Homo sapiens: one gene and its partners. The protein of the gene in region 2 interacts with the protein of the main gene of each other region in a pairwise test. Each region holds a gene or a part of one and is shown on either strand. Other genes may lie near its edges.

What was found.
Region 1: the proteins of MYCBP2 (region 2) and SPRYD3 interact in a two-hybrid assay, tested with the Homo sapiens proteins (one large-scale study listed by BioGRID and IntAct).
Region 3: the proteins of MYCBP2 (region 2) and AATF interact in a two-hybrid assay, tested with the Homo sapiens proteins (one large-scale study listed by BioGRID and IntAct).
Region 4: the proteins of MYCBP2 (region 2) and DHRS4L2 interact in a two-hybrid assay, tested with the Homo sapiens proteins (one large-scale study listed by BioGRID and IntAct).
Region 5: the proteins of MYCBP2 (region 2) and PRXL2A interact in a two-hybrid assay, tested with the Homo sapiens proteins (one large-scale study listed by BioGRID and IntAct).
Region 6: the proteins of MYCBP2 (region 2) and LSM14A interact in a two-hybrid assay, tested with the Homo sapiens proteins (one large-scale study listed by BioGRID and IntAct).
Region 7: the proteins of MYCBP2 (region 2) and APPL1 interact in a two-hybrid assay, tested with the Homo sapiens proteins (one large-scale study listed by BioGRID and IntAct).

What each region holds. Positions count from the first base shown.
Region 1 is NC_000012.12:53,066,604-53,069,390, forward strand, and holds part of SPRYD3 (SPRY domain-containing protein 3), read right to left. Parts: intron 1,702-2,787; coding exon 1,552-1,701; intron 1,103-1,551; coding exon 1,045-1,102; intron 90-1,044; coding exon 1-89.
Region 2 is NC_000013.11:77,047,626-77,051,094, forward strand, and holds part of MYCBP2 (E3 ubiquitin-protein ligase MYCBP2), read right to left. Parts: coding exon 3,372-3,469; intron 1-3,371. UniProt on the Homo sapiens protein: Atypical E3 ubiquitin-protein ligase which specifically mediates ubiquitination of threonine and serine residues on target proteins, instead of ubiquitinating lysine residues.
Region 3 is NC_000017.11:37,014,954-37,018,453, forward strand, and holds part of AATF (protein AATF), read left to right. Parts: intron 1-3,500. UniProt on the Homo sapiens protein: Part of the small subunit (SSU) processome, first precursor of the small eukaryotic ribosomal subunit.
Region 4 is NC_000014.9:23,991,929-23,995,428, reverse strand, and holds part of DHRS4L2 (dehydrogenase/reductase SDR family member 4-like 2 isoform 1 precursor), read right to left. Parts: intron 398-3,500; coding exon 296-397; intron 1-295.
Region 5 is NC_000010.11:80,425,551-80,429,050, forward strand, and holds part of PRXL2A (peroxiredoxin-like 2A isoform 1 precursor), read left to right. Parts: intron 1-315; coding exon 316-456; intron 457-1,781; coding exon 1,782-1,946; intron 1,947-3,500. UniProt on the Homo sapiens protein: Involved in redox regulation of the cell. Acts as an antioxidant. Inhibits TNFSF11-induced NFKB1 and JUN activation and osteoclast differentiation. May affect bone resorption and help to maintain bone mass.
Region 6 is NC_000019.10:34,210,504-34,214,003, reverse strand, and holds part of LSM14A (protein LSM14 homolog A), read right to left. Parts: intron 1-3,500. UniProt on the Homo sapiens protein: Essential for formation of P-bodies, cytoplasmic structures that provide storage sites for translationally inactive mRNAs and protect them from degradation. Acts as a repressor of mRNA translation. May play a role in mitotic spindle assembly.
Region 7 is NC_000003.12:57,265,729-57,269,228, reverse strand, and holds part of APPL1 (DCC-interacting protein 13-alpha), read right to left. Parts: intron 1,488-3,500; coding exon 1,437-1,487; intron 888-1,436; exon of another isoform or gene 832-887; coding exon 742-831; exon of another isoform or gene 1-741. UniProt on the Homo sapiens protein: Multifunctional adapter protein that binds to various membrane receptors, nuclear factors and signaling proteins to regulate many processes, such as cell proliferation, immune response, endosomal trafficking and cell metabolism.

The DNA of each region.
Region 1 (2,787 bases), on a different chromosome or scaffold from region 2:
CATGATTCCACAGCCCATGATGTCCCCTTTGTAACAGCGTGGCCCAAAGGGGTCCCCCACACCACTGCCATGGAAGATCTTCCCATCGTCTGTTGGAGGGAGGGGAAAGGACAAACACTTGAGGAAGGAGGGCTGACACCACACCCCCAGAGTGGCTCATGAAGCTGAACACTTCCCACCCCTCAGAGGAAGGGAAGGGTCAGGGCGGAAACAAAGATGGAGAGAGAGGCCGGGCGCGGTGGCTCACGCCTGGAATCCCAGGACTTTGGGAGGCCAAGGAGGGTGGATCACCTGAAGTCAGGAGTTTGAGACCAGCATGGCCAGCATGGCGAAACATCTCTACTAAAAATACAAAAATTAGCTGGGCGTGGTGGCGCCCGTCTGTAGTCCCAGCTACTCAGGAGGCTGAGGTGGGAGGATCACTTGAGCCTGGGAGGCAGAGGTTGCAGTGAGCCAAGATCATGCCACTGCACTCCAGTCTAGGTGACAGAGTGAGACTCCATCTCAAAAAAAAAAAAAAAAAAAAATTGGAGCGAGATATATGGGAAGGGGGCACCAAATAAAATAAAGAGACGTAGTATCCATCTGCTCAAGGTAAGGGTAAGGGAGAACCCTTAGGAAATGAGTCAGAGGAGGGGGCCCTAGGGAAGGAATGAACACCCAGGGAGGGCAGGCAGGGGGAGGTGGGTCGAGGAACTCTAGGCTCAGTTTTCTTCTAAAGAAAGCCAAGGAAACCAAGCAGCAAAAGAAAAAAGAAAATGAGGAAATGAGGGTCTGCAGGAAGGGCACGGGGGGACCAGCTCAGAGGCCTGGAATGTCCCATCTGGGCCCAGATCTCCCTCTCCTGTCCTGCTCCCCTGGTTTCCAGAGCTGGGAGGAAAACACAGATGAGGAGGAAGCACTAGCGATTTGGGAAGGGGAGGTCAGCCAGCAGCAGGGCAAACAGCAAGGCCATTTGTGAGGGGCCAGGAGAGGGGAAAGTGGATGTCCCTATGCCTCCACATCTCCCACCATCCCACCTTTCCCAGGCAGCCCGCTATTCACCTGCATGATAAGCCACAGACCCTCTGCTCCAGCCAGGGTGCCTGTTCTTGGGATAGTCCTGCACCAAGAAGAGAAAAGAAAATCTATGGTCCCATGCATAAACAAGACAGGAGAGAGTGGCGAGTAGCATCTGAACCTCTGGGACAGACCACAGCCCAGAGAGTGCCAACCCTGCACACTCATACCCTGCAGGCACTGGGGCTTCAGGGGAACCAGGGAGGGTGAGGAAAGTGTTAGTTAAGCTTTTAAGGCCAGAGCCATGGCATGTCCCACCCCCTCCCCCCAGGCCTTAGTGTGTGGTGCAGTCATGACCTGTCTCAGGTCCTTGGTCACATGGGGTGTGTACTCTTACACAGCAGACACATACAACTGTGTTCCATCTCAGCTTAGCACCCTCCCTCCAAAGCCTGGGCTCCCCTGGTTTCTCCTAAGAGCTTCCTGGTGCTGCCCCAACAGCCCCAGACCTGAGCAGCTCCATGAGCAAAAAAGCTCAGCCTTTGTGCCCACCTTCCGTGCCAGCCCCAGGGCGATGTAGCATTTCTCTCCAGGGTCCACGATCTCCACCTCGAAGTAGTGGCTGCGGGTGCTGAGTGGGTGCCGGGCCTGGGCCAGCCCCACATCCACGATGCTTTTGCCCTTCCCTAAGTACTCCAGCAGCTGTGGGGGAAGAGCCAGATGGGGGTCAGGGGACAGGCTGACACCCACCCTGGAAACCTGGGCCCAAGGCAGTCTGGGTCCCACTTTCCCAGGTCTGACAAAAACTCCTGGCTGAAAGGGAAAGAATCCTAGAGATACAATGTGGCCCCAAAGTTCTAGGCCAGCATGGAAGAGCAGGATGGGGTGGGAGGCAAAGGGGAGAGCACCCCTTGCTGAATGCCCACGCTGTCTTCCCCCACACACTTTCTGGGAGGCCGGGGAAAGCAGCACAGCTAGGGGAGCGGCACACCAGGGGGCTCTAGATGCATCCTCGCCCGCTGAAAAACCCTGCAGCCTTTCCTGCTGGGAAAGGTCCGCCCAGGGTCCCAAACACAGGGGAAAGGAGAAGCAAGACTAGCTGAGAGGAAACTTGATGACTTTCTCAGGGGGCCTAATGGGGACAGGGAGGATGCAGAAGTTAGGTGCCAACCCCAGATATTCAGGGGAAGCGGGTGAGTTCAGAAGCCAATTCTGCCTGGGATGGGCCTGACATAATTTCTCAAGGTCCTTGTTTTACTTGGCTGTGAACACAGCTGTTCTTAGCTGGGTCAGGGAGGTGCTGAGGGGAGCCCAGGGACCCAGAACGCCCAGCTCTACTCCCTCATTTCATGTGAGGGAGAGGAGAGGTCAAAATGAAGACAGAGGCAGGCTTAGCTGTTCCCAGCCCCTCATTGCTCATTCAAGTTGGAGTAGGGGCGTGGAGGTAGGATAGGGGAGATGACTGATGGGTTCTTGGGGCTCTTCAGTCCCACAATGGTCCTGCCTGGGCACGACGGGGCGGCAACCCCCAATCTGGGAGGATTTATTTGTCAGTTGTCATGGTAATAGTGGGGTGATGACTCAACCCCATCCCCTCTTTCCCCCACCTTCGGCCTCACCTGGGATTCCTTAATCTCCTTTTAATTAGCCCAACTGCCCCTCACGACTTTCTTCTACCCTCCCACCCCTGCAGCCCTGAAGGAAACATGTTGCCTAGGGACCTCCTCCACGTCTCCCTGGCAAGCTTTGGGACGCCGGCCTCTCACCTCTCACAGATTCCTGCCTGAA
Region 2 (3,469 bases):
GATGAGGGAACTAGCACAGGGCATTGTGCCTAAAGACATGCCCACGGCTGCACAGACAGAAAAACCTTCAATCAGATAAAGGACAAGACCTGGGATAGAAATGCCTTTGTCCTTTGTATAGTCAGGGGGCTCTCTCCTTTTGTGGGCATAGGCACAGTGGGCTCCAGTGGGTTCCTGGGCCAGGGTCCCGGGCCAAGCTGAGTCACGCTGCGGGCCAAGACAGCCCACAGACTAAGCACATTCCTTCCCCTTTCCAGTCCATAAAAACCCTGGGCCCCAGCCTCACGGGAGCATCCTGTTTGGGCCCCCCTCTCTGCTGGCAGAGAGCTTTCTTCTTTTGCTTATTAAACTTTCGCTCTAACCTCACCTTTGTATCTGTGCTCCTTAATCTTCTTGGAGGTAGGACAAAGAACTCCTGGCATTATCTCAGACAATGAGAGACTGTTATATCTTGGTGCACTGCTGAGACTACAACATTAACACCAATGTTATGGTGTTAGGAGGTGGAGCTGTGGGAGGTGATGAGGTCATGGGGTGGAATCCATGAATGGGATTAGTGCTCTTCCTATCAATGAGACCCAGGAGAGGCCCCCTGCCCTTCCACGACAGCAAGAAAGTGCCACCTATGAGGCTGAGAGTGGGTCCTCACCAGACACCTCGACTGCTAATTCCTAGATCTTAGACTTCCTGGTCTCCAGAACTGTGAGAATAAATTTCCACTGTTTATAAGCTACCCAGTTTACAGTATTTTGTTATAGCAGCTTGAATGGATGAAGACTGATTATCTAAAAATATTAGAATTAACAGGGTTGAGAGTGGTTAGAGAATTGCTTCTTCTGTCCTTCTAAGTAAACTGTATATGGCCATCTTCCCTACTCACATCCCTGTGGGATCTCCTTTATTCTATTCCAGTTCTCTAAATGAATGGATGAGTTAGAGGGATGTGTGAGGCTGGGAGAGTATACCTCAATCTCAGTGTATGTTCTTAGGCCAGTTCATTAACCTCCCTAGCCCTCAATTTTCCATTTGATAACATAGGGATAATACCATCTACTCGCAGATTGTAAAAATGGAGCAAATATGTGTGAAAATGCCCAGGACCGAGGTCATTCCTTCCTTCTGCCAACTCTGGCTCCTCCCCCGCCTCCCTCCTGTGATTCCTTTGTGTTGGCTGCCCTGATCCTGTGAGGAAACCTGACCCTCCTCTCTCAGCTACTACCCACCACTGAGTTCTCTAAAGTGTTTCATTGTTAACTTCCTTATTTTTAGCATTCTTATTTCTGTTTTTTAACATAGAGGAAACTTTAAGTAAAATCTAGATTTCCCCTGAAGATACTGCTTGCCTTAAATCTTTCTCAACTGGAGGCTGGTTATCTCCCAAGCTCCTCCAGGTCATATGGCTACAACGTGTGACTGATTTTTCTCTTGGCTCCTATTTCTTTCCAGACCACAACCTACAACTTTCATTCAATAATTGCCCTTCCTCCAAGCTCAAGTCATCTAGAGTCATCTAGAATACTGCCCTTTCCACACTCCCTTCACTTGCTGACCTCCAGCACATCACCCCCTCCCTCCAAGCATGGCTCACATCTCTGTTCTGTCCATTATCCTCCATAACCTGGCTTCACATCATTCTGGCCTTGCTTCTTTCAAAGCCTGCTACTTCTATTAAAAAAAAACAGTATTTGAGGAGAAACAGTAAAACAATTTTTATTTGACATGAGCAAATGGTAAAAAGTAGTCATACTTGAAAAAACCCTACTTATCTTTATTTTGAAATGGATAGTATATGTTTCACATGGTTTAAAATCAAAATGTTAAAAATGATAACACAATTGGAAGCAACTTTCCCTAGTCTCTACCCTCATCTTTTTCTTGCTTTTCCCAATAGTTAATCAATAGTATTAGTTTCTTGAGTATCTTTCCAGGGGTTTCTTTATGTAAATATAAACAAATATGACTAGATAGTCTCATTTTCCCTCTTACAAAAGGCAGCATACTGCATACTCTGTTCTGCAATTTGCTTTTTTTTTTTGAAACAGCTCTGTCGCCCAGGCTGGAGTGCAGTGGCGCAATCTTGGCTCACTGCAACCTCCGCCTCTCAGGCTCAAGTGATTCTCTGGCCTCAGCCTCGTGAGTAGCTCGGATTACAGGTACCCGCCACCATGCCTGGCTAATTTTTGTACATTTAGTAGAGATGGGGTTTCACCATGTTGGCCAGGCTGGTCTCGTACTCCTGACCTCAAGTGATCCACCTGCTTCGGTCTCCCATAGTGCTGGGATTACAGGTGTCAGTCACACCACTTGGCCTAATTTACTTTTTTCATCTGATGCTATCTCCTGAAGATCTTTCCAAATCAGCACACAGAAACACCATCCTCACTCTTTTTTTTTTTTAAACTGATGCGTAATATTAGCCACTACCCTACTGGACACTAGCATTGTTTATACATTTTTATTATCATAGCAAAGCTGTAGTTAATAACCTTGTTTATTTGCCCTTTTTTACTGTCCTCACATTTGTAGCTATATCCCTGAAGAGGGAGTGCTGAAGGGTTGATACGCTGGTAATTTTGAGAGGCACTATTAAGCTGTTTTCCGGAGAGGTCTATCACTTGCACTCTGATAGGCAGCAGATGGCAGTGTGTGTTTTCTAGCTTTGACAACACGGTATATTGTGTTGTATGTACTTGTGCATGTATTTTCACTAATTTCAGATATATCTTATGTAAAATTCTCTCCTATGGTTGCACGGACCTCTCCTTCCACTTCTCTCACTTCCGTGAAGCCTGGTATTCCACCTCACCGTTGCCACTAGCCTCCTGTCCTCTTCCAGTATTTTCAGCTTCTTTTTGGTTTCATACTTCTTTCCCCTCAGCCTGCTTTCCATAGACAATAATTTCTCCTGTATTCTGAGTGGTTTCTTTAATTCCCTTGACTTTCTGATGCTCACTACACTACTGATTCCCAGCCATTCTAGATTAAATCACTTGGTTCATTTTATGGCAACGGTTCCAGGCTTCGTTAAAAAAAAAAAAAAATCACAGAATCCTTTTAAATGGTTCTGTAATATTGAACTTCATATGACTTTTTAGTGCTGAACAGCCATCTTTTCACCAATCCTTAGTAGACTTCATTCTCACTCCCCATGAGATCTGCTCCGTCACAGCTAACTTCTCACTCATGATGATGAGCCTGCTTCCTAATTCACCCAGAAAGTCATAAGCTTACAAGGATCAAGGAATTCCTCCTGCTTCTTTAGGCTAGTTTGAATTGAGTTTCTGTCACTTGAAACAGAGCTTTCATATAATGTTTACATAAAACTATGGTATATAGATCATAATCGTGATTTTAAAATATTAAAAGCATACCTGCAGGACAGTGTGGTAGTTCTTCCTTAGGAATGCTAGTCATTCTTTGAAAATCATCATGACAAGCATTACAAAAATGTGTTGTTCCAAAACAGAAA
Region 3 (3,500 bases), on a different chromosome or scaffold from region 2:
TTATCAAAGTATACCCTCTCCCACTCTTGGGATATTCATTGTAAGTTTTGGGGGTTTTTTTCTCCTTTTTAATTATTTATTTTGTTCTCTGCATTGCTTCCTTGAGTCTCTTTTCTATTTGTTTGGTTTGTGCATGAGGATTTCCTCAGATGCAGGCGATCCTTAACTGTCTGTTCATATTTAAGAGTAAAGCATTAAAGTTTATTATTCGGAATCTCTGAAACCTGGGCAGAGCTTTTTGGCTTCTTTAAATATAATTATGCTGTGAACTGACCTCTTTGTTAGAGTAGCCTTGGATGTCAGAATTTGTATTTGTTTGCTTTGTTTTCTATATATCTATTTGTTTGTGCTGCTATAGTAAAATACCACAGACTAGGTAATCTTAAAAGAACAGAAATTTATTTCTCACAGTTCTGGAGGTTGTAAAGTCCAAGAACAAGAAGGTGGCAGTTTCTGTTGTCTGGAGAGGGCTGCTGTCTGCTTCCAAGATGGTGCCTTGATGCTGAATTCTTCTGAGGGAATTCACATGGCAGAAGGTGGAAAGGCAAAAGGGACAGACTCCCTCCATCATGCCCTTTTAGAGGGACGCCTAATCCCATCCACGAGGGCAGAGCCTGCATGACTCAGTCACCTCCCAAAGGCCATTCCTTCCAATACTGTTGCATTGGGGATTAAGTGTTCAACATACGGATTTTGGGAGACACATGCAGAAGACCATAGCAACTTTGAAATCTAATTTTGGGGGTGGGAGGGCAGACACCATTCAGTTTCTTCCAGAAAAGGCTCCTCTGCTTTCCTGCCTAGGAAATTATAGAATGGGATGTTAGCTTTCTACAAATGAGGTGGGAGAAAGGGAGAGGTTTCAGAGATTAACATAGAGCCTTTCCCTTGTACCTCATTCCAGCCTTCTTTGCCTGGTATCCTCTATTCTGGAGCTTCTGTGGTTCAATATTTCCAAAGAATAAAATTTCTTTTCTCTCACGAGAGGAGGTGGGTGGTAGAGGTGGTTAGTCACTTGGCTGTGTGGGATAATGGAGGAGGCCCAAGTGGTTCTGCTCCTTCTCTTTTTCCCACCTTGCGTGGTAACTGCCAGAGAGCTGATCCTCACAGGAATTCTGCGGCCTAATACAATTAGCTTCATCTTCACCTTTATTCACTCTGGGCATTTGGGTGATAACTTCTCCATCTCCTTACTGTCTTGGAAAAATTTATGAAAATATGCACACATTAGTGCTCCTTTTCTCTTTTTTCTTAGGAGTTAATATTTATTTTATTCCTCAACTGTCTCTTAGAGGGGTTGAGAAGAGATAAACTAATGTGTTCAATCTGCCATTTTTAACTGTTTCTAGCATGCATTTTTTCTAATGAAAGTATTATAAATGTTGATTAGATGCTTAATAGTACTATTAGTCCTGTTCCTCATGTATATTGGTATGGGTTAAATAGGTTTCTGTGGCCAACCTGAAAACCTAACTGTATCTATGATTTTCCCTTAGAACTAGAGGTATAATCAAGCCTTTCCGAATTGATTATCTGGAGGAATTTTAACAGACTAGAGCAAAAACATTTTCTCTCTCTCCATTTTCCAAATCACATAGAAAATTACTACAAATACTATATCATCATTGTTGAAATAAAAAGCTCTAATAATTGTAACAGAAACTTGAATTTTAGTAGAAAGGTTTATTTGTAAAGTTAAAGCTATACAAATTAAAATCAGAAGTAAAATTGAATTCTTCAGCCAATATCTCAAATCTCTTTTTTTTTTTTTAGCAACTGTTTTGAAAGCAATTTTCTAATTAAATTTAAACCCAGTGATAGTGGTAGCTTTGGGAAAATAGTAATAGCCACGGGAATCATTTGTTTAACTGTATTTTTTGTTGTTGTTGCTTTCTTTTTCTTACCATGGACACAACAGAATCTTCTGAAATATTGGACTGAATAAACTAGACCTAGCTAGATAGACCAATAAAACAATCTTCCAAGTCATGAATGAGTAAAAATAGTTATGCAAAGCACTTGTGTGCGAAAATGCAGCTCAGAATATGTATAGTACACAAAGTGTTTGAAAGTAAATGCTGCACCAACTTGGTGTTGGAATTGCAGAGACCACTGCAGTGGGGAGCTCCAATTTCCAGCCTTTGGCAAGGGCATATTCTTCCCGAGGATCACCCTGTTGTGCTGGGGCAGCCTTCCATGAGCACTTGCACCCCGGTGACCCTGATTGCCCAGTCTCAAGGGATCTGAGAAAATTAGGAAAACCAGGAACGGTTGTTGTAATCTTTTGTATGGCTGGAACGAGGTAAGGGCAATGAAATGCAGTTATTCCATTATTTTCCTTCCTTTTTATTTTTCTTTCTCTTTTATTTCTTCTTCTTTATTATTATTAACCACTCCCCCTCACTCCCCCTACTCCTTGCTTTTGACAGAATATTGACTAGGAACCAGAAGCCCATTTCTGCTTAGCCTTAAGGGCAGCTGTTTACACAGCAGCAGTGTTACATAGGTTTACTGTGTCATATGTCTGTGTAACACTGGATTTGGATCTTGTATTTAGCTGCCAGAAGTGACTGTGATGAAGTAGGAGAGATAAACTGATAGATTGGCTGCCAGAAAGATGTTGGGAATCAATCAGATAAACAGGGTAGAGAAATAGCTTGCTGTTTTCTAGTGATAATAAAACCAGCGGCTTCTGGTCCCTGCATTCTTAAACATAATTGCTGTAGTAATAATGTCCAAAATAAGCAAATGAAAAAACATCATGGGAGGTTTTCTAATTGCAATTGAGATATCCTTTTCCCTTTTGCAATAAAGATTCATCTTTTGGAAGTGAATATTTTTTATAAATTTGTTTTACTTCTTCCAGTGCCTACTTACATAAACATATGAAATTAGAAAGAGATCTGCTTTCAGAGGAATTTATTTCTCTTTCTTCATTTGAACCACTGAAGCCCACAGGCTTCAGCTATTTGATTTGATGAAATATCTCTATTGCCACCATGCCTCACCTACAAAATCATTGCTAATTTTTATGAAGAAACAAGTTTTAAGGCCAAACCTGGATTATTGACAGATGATTAGCAGAACTAGTTTATCTTAGCGTCTTCTCTTAAATTTCTCTCAGAAGATTTTTGGAATTTTAATCTCTGTTTCTCTTTCTCTGCATATAGCACTTATAGTTCTATTATCGTAATTCAGGGTTTTTCTCCCTTAGTGTTTAACTTTTAAAACCATTGCTTCTCTTCGCCCAAGGACTTTAAGATTCAGTGCAGATTCTTAAGTCTGTATGAAAGGTACAGATGTAGATTTCAACTGGGTGCAGAGGAGTCAGGCTTAAAATGACAGTAGGAGAGTCATTTAGAATAACTCCCATGGAGTTAATTGTATTGGATGAGAGACTAATCCTCTGTGGTATATTTGCAGTATGCAAATGACTTTCTTTAGATTCCCTCTTAAAATTTGTGTGGCTATGAATGTGTTGGTATCATGTGTGGCTAAAG
Region 4 (3,500 bases), on a different chromosome or scaffold from region 2:
CTGTTGGAAATCAACAAGGCAGAAGAGCATGCCAGGGAAGAAGCCTGGGGAGGGGAGCAGTGGCTAATGAAGAGCAGATAGAAGCAGAGAGAACTAGGAGCAGCAGAAACGAATGAGAAGGGCAGAGAAAGAGCCACCCCCACCTGCCCTTTGCAAGGTGTGCTCCAGGTGTGTGGCACGTGGCAAAGAGTCCTCACATTTACACTGCCCTTGAGAAATGCATTCTAAAAGCAGATGGAGTTTGTGCTGAATGTGTCCCGAGGCCCCCTTCCGCGCTTCTTTAATCCCCTCTCACCTTGTCCCACACCTCCTCGGTGACATCCATTAGGCTTCCAAAGAAAGGGTTGACAGCAGCATTGGAGACTAGGATATCGATACCTCCATGAAGCTTCACAGCCTAGAGAGAGGGGTAAGGTCTGGACCAGGGCTGCAGTAAGTAAGGGAGGTGCATTTACCCATGTTGATAAAAACTTCCTTCTGGGCAAGGAGCTGTGGCTCATGCCTGTAATCATAGCACTTTGGGAGGCCAAGGTGGGAGGCTCACTTGAGCTGAGGAATTTGAGAGAAGCCTGGGCCATGCAGCGAGACCTTATCTTTATATTAAAAACAACAACAACAATGACAACAAAAGCTTCATTCTTAAGAACTATTGTCAAAATAACTTCTATTTCTTAAAACATCTTTTTTGAAAACTACCCTAAGATCTGCCGCTAACCATTTAAGGTTGGCTTCTTTCTTTTTTAGATGGAGTCTTGCTCTGTCATCCAGACTGGAGCACAGTGGCATGTTCTCAGCTCACTGCAGCCTTGACCTACTGGGTTCAAGCCATCCTCTTGGCTCAGCCCCCCAAGTAGTTGAGAGTAGAAGTGCGTGCCACCACACCCGGGCAATTTTTGTATTTTTTGTAGAGACAGGGTCTTGCCATGTTGCCCAGGCTGGTCTGGAACTCCTGGGCTCAAGCCATCCACCTGCCTTGGTATCCTAAAGTGTTATAGGCACAAGCCACCAGGAAGTTGGCCCTATTTCTTTTGCAGTCTTTTCTTCCCACCTCCTATTCTTCCAAGGCTGTCTCTGACGCTCTTTTCTTTACACTTTCCCTTTGGAAAGCTCCTTCATTCTCATGATTTCAAGTCTCACCCCAAAATCTATTTCCAGACCCCTCCTCTTCCTTTCACACTGAGTTCCACCCACATTTCTCCAAGTGCTTACTGTCCAGTTCTCCCTGAATAAGTTACCATTATCTCAAAGTCAATCTGTCCACACTTACCTGAATGGAAAAACTGGCTTAAATAGAGCTGAAGAAAGTTACCCTGGAGGGGCCTTTGAGATCATCTATTCCAGTGTCCTTAAGGTGGAGATGATGAAACAGGTTCAGAGAATTTTCTCAAGATCTTATACTTCAGTAGTGGCACACTGGGGCTAGCTAAGAACAGGAGGCCTGCTTATTCTGTGTTTGGGAGGGGTGAAGTGATTTTTTCAGGGCACAAAGCTAGTCAGTAGTGGAAGAAGTGAGGTCAGTCTCCCACTTTGTAGCACAGAGCTAATTCATAAGAGACCTCTGAAAGTGAGTTGGGGTCATTAGTAAACCAGCTGCCCAGGAGAGCCATGATGGGAGAAGATACCAGCCTGAATTTAAAGCAATTCCATATTTGGTTATGATGTCATTTTCCCTGTCTCTGTCTCTCTCTTTTGACCTGGAGGCATGAAAGATTCAAGGCAGAAACTGAAATTTAAATTGAGAAAGCGAAGAAAGGCAACATCTCACCTCCTTAATAAGTTATAAGTAGATAGTGAGGCGTGTGCTAGAGTAATGAATGGCCAAGCAGAATCTGCCAACAAGGGTTTTCAGTACAAAGCCACCCTGAAACTAGACTTTGCATTTGCCCGGAACTGGCAATTTTGATGCCTTGGGCAAGTTGCAGTATGTGGGCCCTTGGTCAACTTTGTGCTCTGGATTTGGCACAGAGAGGGGTGTTACTAACAATGTACACCATCTGCTAGCTTCCCGTTTTAACTAATTATTCTTGTTAACTAGGTGCTAAGCTCAGTTGTTTCTAGACAGTGGAAGGAATGCTGGGTTTGTCAACGTGTTAATCTAACAAAATTTACAGTCACATAATCTTTTAAAATCGGTATTAATACTTTCTTGCACCCTTTAAATTTTGGCATCCTGGCACAAAGCCAAGTCACCTGGGTTGGCTCTGTGTAAGTCTCACCAATGGACTTGTTACTAGGGAGGTGCAGAGTAAGTTAATAAGTGATGTGCACTGTGCTCAGTACACATGTGTTTGGGCTGGGAGGAGACAATGGATTGCTCTAGAATCACCTGGAGACATTTTCTACTCTGCTGTATACCCCATACTCCTCTCCTTCCAGGTCTGTCAGCACAGAGATGGGAGGAGGCTGGGTTTTGATTGAACAGAGACAGCAAACCATAAAAGATGAATGAGGCTGGGTGTGGTGGCTCACACCTATAATCCTAGCACTTTGGTAGGCCCAGTGGGGAGGACCACTTGAGGCCAGGAGTTCAAAACAGCCTGGGAAATACAGCCCCAACTCTACAAAAAATTTAAAAAATGAACTGGTGTGGTGGTGCATGCCTATAGTTTTAGCCACTTGGGAGGCTGAGGTGGGAGGATTGCTTGAGTTCAGGACTTCGAGGTTACAGTGAGCTATGATCATGTCACTGCACTGCAGCCTGGGCAACAGAATGAGGCACTGTCTCTGGAAAAAAATAAAAGAAAGTCTTCTAAGTCTTATTCTAAATTGTGTGATCACTACACTAAAGCGGTTAGGAGCTGTTTGTTCTGTGTTCTGATAGTTATACATTTTTAAGAAAAAATATAATCAAGCAGATAGGCAGCTACTCTGGTTTCCACTTACAACACCAGTGAGAAGCTTCGTGGTGTGCAGATGAGGAGGCCACTGGGTAGTATCCATTCTCAGGGCAGTGGCTTTTCTTATTGCAGGGTAACATGTGGCAACTGGCAGAAGACATTTCAAATTGCTGACAAGTATTCTATCATTCTCTTCTCTGACAATGGTCATACAAACTACCTGAGAGTCATTTTTGACTTCTCTATTTCCCACTTTTTGACATGGGGTTGGAAAATCTTGGTTCGTTTCCACTAAATGTCTCTTGGGCACATCTATTCCAGTCCCGCCGCCACTGCTCTAAACCTGGACGACAGCAACAGCTTCCTCACTGATGCCCTGGATTCGGTGTCTCCTCTGTATATCCTTCCTACCAGAGCCAGATTAGCTTTCCTAATAACCATCTTTCTCTTGCTCAAAACCTCACATGGCTTCTTATTTGCTGCAAGAATGTGTAAACATATCCTTTTAAGAGGCCATATCCTTTTAAGGTCCTTAACGTATCCTTTTAAGAAGCTATGGCCGGGCACAGTGGCTCACGCCTGTAATCCCAGCACTTTGAGAGGCCGAGGGGGTGGATCACCTGAGGTCAGGAGTTCAAGACCAGCCTGGCCAACATGGTGAAA
Region 5 (3,500 bases), on a different chromosome or scaffold from region 2:
GTAGGGTTGAGCTGAAGAGAGAAGGAAGGTTATGGCTAGAGGAGCGTGTGTCTGCTGGGCCCTTGTGTTAGTTTGGTCTAGTGCAGGGAAGGGGCTGGGAGATGATGTAGGAGAGAAGCATTGTGGGCAGGAGGAGAGGATGTGTTTGGGTATGGCTGCTCCCAAGCTGTGGTTAGGACAGCCATAACAGGAGCCTTGCCTCTGCTTTCCACTGGAGAAGACAAGGAGCCTGGGCTGCAGAGGGAACCTGACACCCTATGTGGAGGCCCACAGCCAGCTGGGACAGATGTCCCTGAACCCTTGTGTCTTCTACAGGAAGCTGCGGATCTGTCCTCCCTGAAAAGCATGTTGGACCAGCTGGGCGTCCCCCTCTATGCAGTGGTAAAGGAGCACATCAGGACTGAAGTGAAGGATTTCCAGCCTTATTTCAAAGGAGAAATCTTCCTGGATGAAAAGGTGTGTGTGATGGGAGGCTTTTAGACACAGACTGCTGGGGATTGTGCTCAGCTGTGTGATAGTCAGGTGGCCCAGGTATGTCTGGCCTGGAGCTGGAGGCTGGCCTTCCCTTCAGCTGTCCTGAACTTGCAAGGCCTTTTTCAGCCCCCTGAGCAGAGCATGATCAGACATTTTAAAGCTGTCCTCTCAGTTACAGACAGTCCCTGACCATCTGGTGGTTTGACTTAACGATCTTTCAGCTTTGTGATGGTGCAGAAGTGATAAGCATTTAGTTTCTACATTTCTTCAAGAACCCATACAGCCATTCTGTTTTTCACATTCAATATTCAATAGACTACATAAGTTATTCAACACTTTATTTTAAAATAGGATTGTGTTACATGATTTTATTCAACTGTAGGTTAATAAGAGTGTTCTGAGCATGTTTAAGGTAGTGTAGGCTAAGCTATGAGGTTAGGTGTATTAAATGCATTTCAATATAAGATATTTCAACTTATGATGGGTTTGTAGGGACATAATCCCATTGTAAGTTGAGGAGCATCTGTATTACTTAAGTCTTTCCTGCCATGTGAACTGGGAGAGTAGGAAATAGCTGAAACTCCAACAGGTTCCTCCACTGTTGGGGGCCTAGTACAAAGCCCCACACCCTGTCCCTTAATTCATTTATTTCTTTCTCTTCTGCTCCCACCTCTGCAGAAGGTAGCACTGTTACCATCCTGTCAGGTGGAAGACTAGTGAGAAGGTAGAGTCAGAATTGAAAGCTACGGATGTCACCCTAGGTCAGGCCTACCTTGAGGTCTGAAACTGGACCCAGCAGGGTTCTGTTTTCTTGGCAGTTGAGAGTGGACCTGGATTGGCTGGGCATGGTGGCTCATGCCTGTAATCTCAGCACTTTGGGAGGCCGAGGTGGGCAGATCATTTGTGGTCAGGAGTTCAAGACCAGCTTGGCCAACGTGGTGAAACCTGTCTCTACTAAAAATTCAAAAATTAGCCAGGCATGGTGGCAGGCACTTGTAATCCTAGCTACTTGGGAGGCTGAGGCCAGAGAATTGCTTGAACCTAGGAGGTGGAGATTGTAGTCAGCTGAGATCGCGCCGTTGTACTCTAGCCTGACTGACAGAGCAAGACTCCATCTCAAAAAAAAAAAAAAAAAAAGAGTGGACCTGAATGTGGGCAGTGTGTGTGTGTTGGGTGGGAGAGAAGACTGGAACCAGCAGCCTTTTGAGTCTTTGCCTGAGAACCAATGCCCCGTCAGGAGCGTTTCCTCCTTGAGGAAGGCAGGCATGTAGAGTACTCATATGGGATCTGTCTTTCTCACTCCATAGAAAAAGTTCTATGGTCCACAAAGGCGGAAGATGATGTTTATGGGATTTATCCGTCTGGGAGTGTGGTACAACTTCTTCCGAGCCTGGAACGGAGGCTTCTCTGGAAACCTGGAAGGAGAAGGCTTCATCCTTGGGGGAGTTTTCGTGGTGGGATCAGGAAAGCAGGTGAGTTCTTGGTGTTTACTTGTGGTCTGTAGGTGTCTGTGTCTGTGAGTGTGAGACTCCAACCAGAAGCTGGAGTGGGGGTTGACTTTCCCTGTTTTGGGTCTCCTAGCCTTCCTTCTAGCAAGCCAGGGAACATGAAGAAGGGAAGGGAAGGCAGTTGTTGTTTATCACACATCATTCTCTGCTAGTACCTCATACTTGAATCTACTCACTCATCACAGTGACATCATGAGACAGTTTGATCATTTTGCAGACAAGGAACTTAGAACTGAAAAGGGATGAGCAGCTGCACAAGGAGCACAGCTCATCGGTGGCTCTGCTAGGCCTGAACTCAGGTTTGCTGACTTTAAGTTCAAGGAGCACAGCTCATGGGTGGCACTGCTGGGGCCTGAACCCAGGTTTGCTGACTTTAAGTTTTGTTTTCTGTGCTTGAACAAAAGCGTAGTTTTATTCTGTTTTTGAATTTACTCTCTTGCAGTGTTCCAGGCCACCATGGATGGATGATAGAAAAAAAAATAAGAGGAGAAAATAAGGAATAGAACCAGGCGTAATTAGGGGAAGTGGCAAGGAGGTTGCGGGGAGACGATGCTTTTTTCTGTGGGGATCTTGGTGTCAGGGCTGGCCTAGGAAAGGTATCTGACTCCTCTGCAAACAGGCTATTATTATAGGTCCTGGCTGTGAGGCTCCACAAGCAGCATGGAGCCCTAGGGGAAGGTGTGGAAAGGAGGAATGGGGTCTCTATAGGCCCAAGAGCCAGGTAGGCAGTTGTTTGTGTCAGAGTCTAGGCAGCCTTGAGCCATGGTGGTTCCCCTGCCCTGGAGGGCAGTGTCAGCAGAGGCCAGGAGGATGTGTAGCAGGGATGGAGCAAAGTGGATGAGGGGGCTGGGCGCGGTGGCTCACACCTGTAACGCCAGCACTTTGGGAGGCCAAGGCGGGCGGATCACTTGAGGCCAGGAGTTCCAGACCAGACCAGACTGGCCAACATGGCAAAATCCCATCTCTACTAAAGAAAAGCTTAAAAAATTAGCCGGGTGTAGTGGTGCGCACCCATAGTCCCAGCTACTTGGGAGGCTGAGGCAGGAGATTTGCTTGAACCCAGGAGGCAGAGGCTGCAGTGAGCTGAGATTGTGCCACTGAACTCCAGCCTAGGGGACAGGGCAAGATTCCATCTCAAAAAAGCAAGTGGATGAGGGAAGGGTATGGGAGAAGGACCTGGAAACTGGTGGCCTGACTTCTAGGCCTGTCTCTGTCAATTTTGGACATGACATTAACGTGTAGAAAGTGTTTTCTTTCTGTAGAAAGATGGGGTTTATCTGCATTGTTGGATCTCACTATTAATGTTGATAATTACATACTCTTCCCAATTTGGGAGGAATAAAAGGGAATAGAAATCCTTCAAGTTTAAGCTTTATTTCTTTTTTTTCAGATGGAATCTCACTGTGTTGCCCAGGCTGGAGTGCAGTGGTGCGATCTCGGCTCACTGCAAGCTCCACCTCCTGGGTTCACGCCATTCTCCTGCCTCAGCCTCCTGAGTAGCTGAGACTACAGGCACCC
Region 6 (3,500 bases), on a different chromosome or scaffold from region 2:
CGAGACCAGCCTGAACAACATGGCGAAAGCCTGTCTCTACAAAAAAAATACAAAAATTAGCCAGGTGTGGTGGCACATGCCTGTAACCCCAGCTACTCAGGGGGCTGAAGTGGGTGGATTGCTTGAGCCTGGGAGGCAGAGGTTGTAGTGAGCCGAGATCGGTCCACTGCATCCAGCCTGGGTGACAAAACTAGACTCTGTCTCAAAAAATACAAATATAAAAGAGCCAAAACAAAAAATGGGGTTTGTACTTATACATTATATTTTTCCTTTTATGAGGTCGCCTGGTCACAGCATGAACTGAAGAATGTAACATCGGGTGCTCCCATCATGCTTTCTGTCCTGATAATGTTTGCTGTACATCTCTGCTTAGGCACTCACATCTCATAATTATTCCAAAATATAATGTTTTGCTTAAAAAAAATGCTCATTTCACGTAAAAAAATCCCCCAAATATGCTGCAAATGTTACTGTCCATCTGTGCATATTTGCAGGTGTCAAACAACTGGTGAGTGCTGACAATGCATTATTATGTACCTAGATGATTCAGGGATAATTTATTAGTAATATTTCCCCAATTTATGATTATCTAAAGTATGCACTTACAAATGTGCAATACCATTTCAGCCATTAATGGCAAAGTTAGCCAAATAAATGATCATTTATCAAAACCCAGAAACCGACACAGGCACAATCTACTTAACATTTCAAAATTAAGTTACCACTAATAGAAGCATTACAATTTTTCCACTGGATTATAATGGGAAATCATGGTTTATGTAAGTTTTGGCCTATGAAAAAAACATTTTATAATCACTTATAAAACACATTTTGTTTTTTGTTTTTTAGGGACAGGATAGGGTCTTGTTCTGTTGCTCTGGCTGGAGTGCAGTGGCGCAATCACAGCTCGCTGCAACTTCTAACTCCTGGGACCCAATGATCTTCCTGCCTCAGCCTCTTGAGTAGCTAGGACTATAGATGTGCGCTACCACACCTTGCTAATTTTTTTTATTTCACATGTCTTCCTGAAAAAGCCTACTGCTACAGTTAATTTTATGGTACTACATTAAATCATCTTATAAGTTTATAAAACTTCTTTATCAAGGCTTTTGAGAAAAGATCCTATGGCTCACAAGTACTACAGAAGTACAAGCAATGGGGCAATCGGAGCAAGTACAGAAACATTTGTTGTGTACTTAAAAAGCCTTTTCACTATTAAGGCCTACTAATCATCATGATGCCAGTTTTGTTATAAACAGGGAAATACAGGTGATACTGTGATACTGGATACATTATTAGGAATAAATCCAGAAGTGATTTCTGCATATTATAGACACACTCCCTTGAGCTATCTTCACAATCTTATCACACTTAAAATTCTAGGAATTTTAATTTTGTGAAATTCAGCAATTTTAGTTGATAAAACTTAAATGCAAACTCTTAGGACTTGTCATTTGTCATAACTTTATGTAAATACACCTCTTTCTTTTAATAAACACATACTTCAAAATTTTTAACATTTTAATCTATTTAAAATTTATATATTTTTTGGTGCTCAGTATGAGGGAAAGAATCTAGAGTGACTTTCTCCAAATGATCAGGCAACATTATTAATTGGAACAGACAGCCTTCTCTCCACTAATTTAAAATAATACCTTTATCATCTACTAAATTCTTTTAAGATGAATTCTTGCTCTGTTGCCTAGGCTAGTGTGCAGGGCCGCAATCACAGCTTGCTGCCACCTTAACCTCCTGGGCTCAAGCAATCCTCTAGCTTCAGCCTCTCAAGCTGATAGGCGCACACATCACGCCCAACTAATTTTTAATTTTTTTAGAGACAGGGTCCTGGTATGTTGCCCAGGCTAGTCTCAAATCCCTGGCTTCCATCTTGAACTCGCAAAATGTTAGGGTTTCAGGCATGAACCACTGCACCCAGGATAAATTCTTATTTATACTCGGATCTGTTTCTGCCTGCCTATTGCTTTCTATTCATCTCTTTCTTTTTTCCTGCATTGCTACATTTTATTATCATGTCAGTAAACCCATTACTTTTATTTTTCAAATATGTCCAGCCACACTTCCATGTTTATTTTAAAGATAAACTGTTTTACTAAGTTCTCCTACTATTCTATTTGCATTGATTTTTAATTAATTTGCAATAAATTTGTTAACTATGAGGAGTAAAGTCTTCCCAACATCTTTTTTTTTTGGGGGGGGACAGGGTCTTGGTTCTGTCGCCCAGGCTGGAGTGAGGTAGTGCAGTTAGGGCTCACTGCAGCCTCGGCCTCCTGGGCTCAAGTGATCCTCCTGTCTCAGCCTCTTGAGTAGCTAGGACCACAGGTGTCCACCATCATACTCTGCTTATTTTTAAAATTTTTTGGTAGAGATGAAGTTTCACTACGTTGCTCAGGCTGGTCTCAAACTCGTGGGCTCAAGTGATCATCCTGGCTTTGCCTCCCTAAGTGCTGGTACTGTTCTTGTTCTTCTATCTAGCAATAAGATATGTTTTTTCCATTACATGCAACTTTTATGTCCCTGTCTTACATTATTTATCATAGAAGTTGGTCATATTTCTTAGTATGACCAACTTATTTCTTATTATATATTTTGTATACAATTTCTATTTTGCATTACTGTAATCATCTTTTCTCCTCATTACATAATCAATGGATTAGGCTTTAGGACTATTAAATTTTTTTTTTTTTTAAGATGGAGTCTCGCTCTGTCGCCCAAGCTGGAGTGCAGTAGCGTGATCTCGGCTCACTGCAACCTCTGCCTCCCGGGTTCTCCCACCTCAGCCTCCTGAGTAGCTGGGATTACAGGTGCACGCCACCATGCCCGGCTAATTTTTGTATTTTTAGTAGAGATGGGGTTTCACCATGTTGGTTGGCCAGGCTGGTCTCGAACCCCTGACCTCAGGCGATCCGCCTGCCTTGGCCTCCCAAAGTGCTGGGATTACAGGCATGAGCCATCGTGCCCGGCCAGAACTATTGACTTTTGTATATTTAATTTACATTTTGCCTGTGCCTAATTTAAGTTCCTTATTAGTTCTCATTCTTCATGAATAATGCTAATTTCAATATTTATGCTTCTTTTTCATGTGTTCCTGATTTAACTAAAAATTCCAGAATAGGCCGGGCACTGTGGCTCATGCCTATAATCCCAGCACTTTGGGAGGCCAAGGTGGGTGGATCACTTGAGCCCAGGAGTTCCAGACCAGCCTTGGCAACATGGCGAAACCCCGTCCCTACAAAACTAGCTGGTGGTGCTTGCTTGTGATCTCAGCTAATTGGGAGGATGGCCTGAGCTCAGGAGGTAGAGGCTGCAGTGAGCCATGATCACACCACTGCATTCCAGTCTGGGAGACAGAGCAGGACCCTATCTCAAAAAACAAACAAACAATCTTTAGAATGTTTAAAAATTAAGCAAGTAGGCTGGACGCAGTGGCTCACATCTACAATCCCAGCACTTTGGGAGGCCAAGGCAGGTGGATCACTTGA
Region 7 (3,500 bases), on a different chromosome or scaffold from region 2:
ACCCCCACACTCCTTTCCCTTCCCCTCTCCAGCCCTTTTCTCCATCCCTGTCCAATTCATCTTTGCTAAATCAGGTGTCACCTTCCCTCAGCCTCGCCTATCAAGAAAGCCTCACTTCAATGTCATCTTTGCCACTTCCCTCTTCTTTGTCCAGAGAGCCAGCCCACAGCCAATGCTTATTGATCTGTTCTAAGCATCCCAGCTGTCTCCTCTTTTCTATTCCTACTGTCAATCTACAACCCATAACACGCTCTTACAATTTCATGGATCATTTAATGCATTCTTCAAGTTTTGCTCTGAAATTTGTCTTTTAAAATTATTCTGTTGGATGGACAATGATTTGACACTCCTGGCAATATTAAAAATATACATTTCATTATATATTTCATATAACATATATATTTATTTATTTCCCCCCCATAGAAGGCAAAATGGCTTTCAGCAATGGCAGTTAAGTCTACACAGCCTCTCAACTGCTTTGACAGAGACAACCTCCTCTGAAATATTAAAGTTCTGGTATATTTTTGAAACAGTCATATTACATGTCAACGTAACTATAATGTAAACATCATATCAAAAAACAGATGTGACCCTTTTCTGCTATGGTATGAATCATCTGTTTATGAAGTGGCTGAACAAGCAGAAACAGCCCTTCATTTGGAAATTCAAATCTGAAAGTCATAGTGCTGAATTAAGTCTTCACAAACAACACATAAAGATCCAGACATTAGGACTGTATACCTTTTCAATCTGTTTTTGTTTATTGAGTTCTTTCTGTTGCTTCTCTTTTACTCTCTCTATTTCTTTTTGTTTTTCTGATGCCCTACGATCCTAAAGAACAGATGAATAAAACTAATGAATTAAATATGAAATAACTTTAAATTTTAGACATTTCAGTTAATATCACATGGTAACCTTTCAATATTTTTTTGCATTTATACATAAGAAAGCACATCAACAGTTTATATTCAATGGTAAACAATTATCCAAATTCTAAATGCTATGTTGGTAATAGTATCACTGTTAACCTTGCTTAGCAAAATCATTTTATTTACTTGCTAATATGAAAGAGCTAATATACTATTTTAGTTAACATTCTTGGAAAATCAAGCATCTTGGATTCCTTTTTTTTTTTTGAGATACAGTCTCGCTCTGTTGCCCAGGCTGGAGTGCAGTGGTGTGATCTCGGCTCATTGCAACCTCCGCCTCCCGGATTCAAGTCATTCTCGTGCCTCAGACCTCCTCAGTAGCTGGGATTACAGGTGCACGACACCACACCCAACTAATTTTTGTATTTTTAGTAGAAATGGGGTTTCACCATGTTGGCCAGGTTAGTCTCGAACTCCTGACCTCAAGTCATCTGCCCGCCTCGGCCTCCCAATGTGCTGCGATTACAGGTGTGAACCACTGTGCCCAGCCACATCTTGGATTCTTACCAGTTCAGCATGCAAAGCTATCTGTTTTGCCAGTCCAACAGAATCACATATCTAAAAAGAGAAAAAGTATGAAAAATTCAGGCAGTTCTCACAACAAAGCAAAAATGTCAAGTATCCAAATAACTGATGGAACTAGTTTTATAACTAATCCTAATACATTGCTTCAAGCAAAAGCATATTTAAGAATGCTCAAGCCCCCAAACCAAGGCTTTGTATGTTTTCCTTGAAGTCTACAGGATTCCACTGCTGACTCTCACCTTCATATATACCCCACTTCTTGTTATGTCAAATTCATTACTGTCACAGTAAGGCCTACGAGGAAGAAGCATGCAGCTGCTAATGCTATTCTCAGCTGAAGACATCTGAAAATGGCTGGTTTTGGTTCCCAACATAATGTTTGGTTCCCAACATAAATGAGAGGCTAAAAGATTGCACCAGCTATCAGTGGCAGGGAAAACATGGGTCTGTAGAGTCAGAAGGCCCAAACCATCAGCTTGGCTCTATTCAGAGATGCTTTGCTCAAGCAGCTCAGTAAGCCTAGGCAAAATTTGGGAGTTTTTTCCAAAAATCTTAGAATTATATAAGAATTTTATTTACACAAAAAACTACAAAACACTGATGAAAGAGACTGAAGACACAAAAGAACATCCCATGCTCATGGATCAGAATAATATAGTTAAAATAACCATATTGCCCAAAGCAATCTATAGGTTCAATGCAAATAGCCAAAGCAATCTTAAACAAAAAGAACAAAGCTGGAGGCATCACATTACCTAACTTCAAAATATATTACAAGGCTATAGTAAGCAAAACAGCAGGGGATTGTTATAAAAATAAGACACATGGCCAATGGAACAGAATAGAGAACCCAGGAACGAAGCCACTTGTTTACAGCCAACTGATCTTTAACAAAAGTGACAAAGAACTTTCACTGGGGAAGGGATATCCTCTTCAATAAATGGTTCTGGCAAGATTGGAGAGCCACATGTAGAAGAATGAAACCAGACCCCTCCCTCTCACCATACACAAAAATCAACTCAAAATACATTAAAGACTTAAACATAAGACCCAAAACTATAAAAATACTACAAGAAATTATAAGGATCAGAGCAGAAATAAATGAATCTGACATGAAGAAAACAATACAAAAGATCAACATAACAAAAAGTTGGTTTCTTTGAAAAGATAAAACTGACATTTAGCCAGACTAAGAAAAAGAAGACTCAAATAAAATTGGAGATTAAAAAGGTGACATTACAATTGATACTGCATAAATTCAAAGGATCATTCGTGGCTACTATGAGCAACTACATGCTAGTAAATTGGAAAATCAAGAAGAAATGGATAAATTCCTAGACAAATACAACCTACCAAGATTGAACCACGAAGAAATCCAAAACCTGAACAGTCCAATAACAAGTAACAAGATCCAAACCATAATAAAAAGTCTCCTGGTAAAGAAAAGCCCAGTACCTGATGGCTTTCCTGCTGAATTCTACCAAACATTTAAAGAAGAACTAATACCAATCTTACCCAAAATGTTCCAAAAAATAGAGGAGAAGGGAATACTTCCAAACTCATTCTACGAGGCCAGTATTACCTGATACCAAAACCAGACAAAGACATATCAAAAAAAGAAAACTACAGGCCAATATATCTCATGAATATTGATGCAAAAATCCTCAACAAAATACTAGCAAACCAAATTCAACAACACATTAAAAAGATCATTTATCATGACCAAGTGGGATTTATCCCAGGAATGCAAAGATAGTTCAACATATGCAAATCAATCAATATGCTACATCACATCAACAGAATAAAGGACAAAAACTATTTAATCATTTCAATTACTGCTGAAAATGCATTTGATAAAGTTCAACATCCCTTCATGATTAAAAACCCTCAAAAAAACTTGGTATAGAAGGAATATAGCTCAACATAATAAAAGCCATATATGACAGACTCACAGCTAGTATCATACTGAATGCAGAAAAACAAAAAGCCTTTCCACCTTTTAGATGGAAGATGAGTAATCAGGTAAGAGAGGAAAAAAGGCATCCA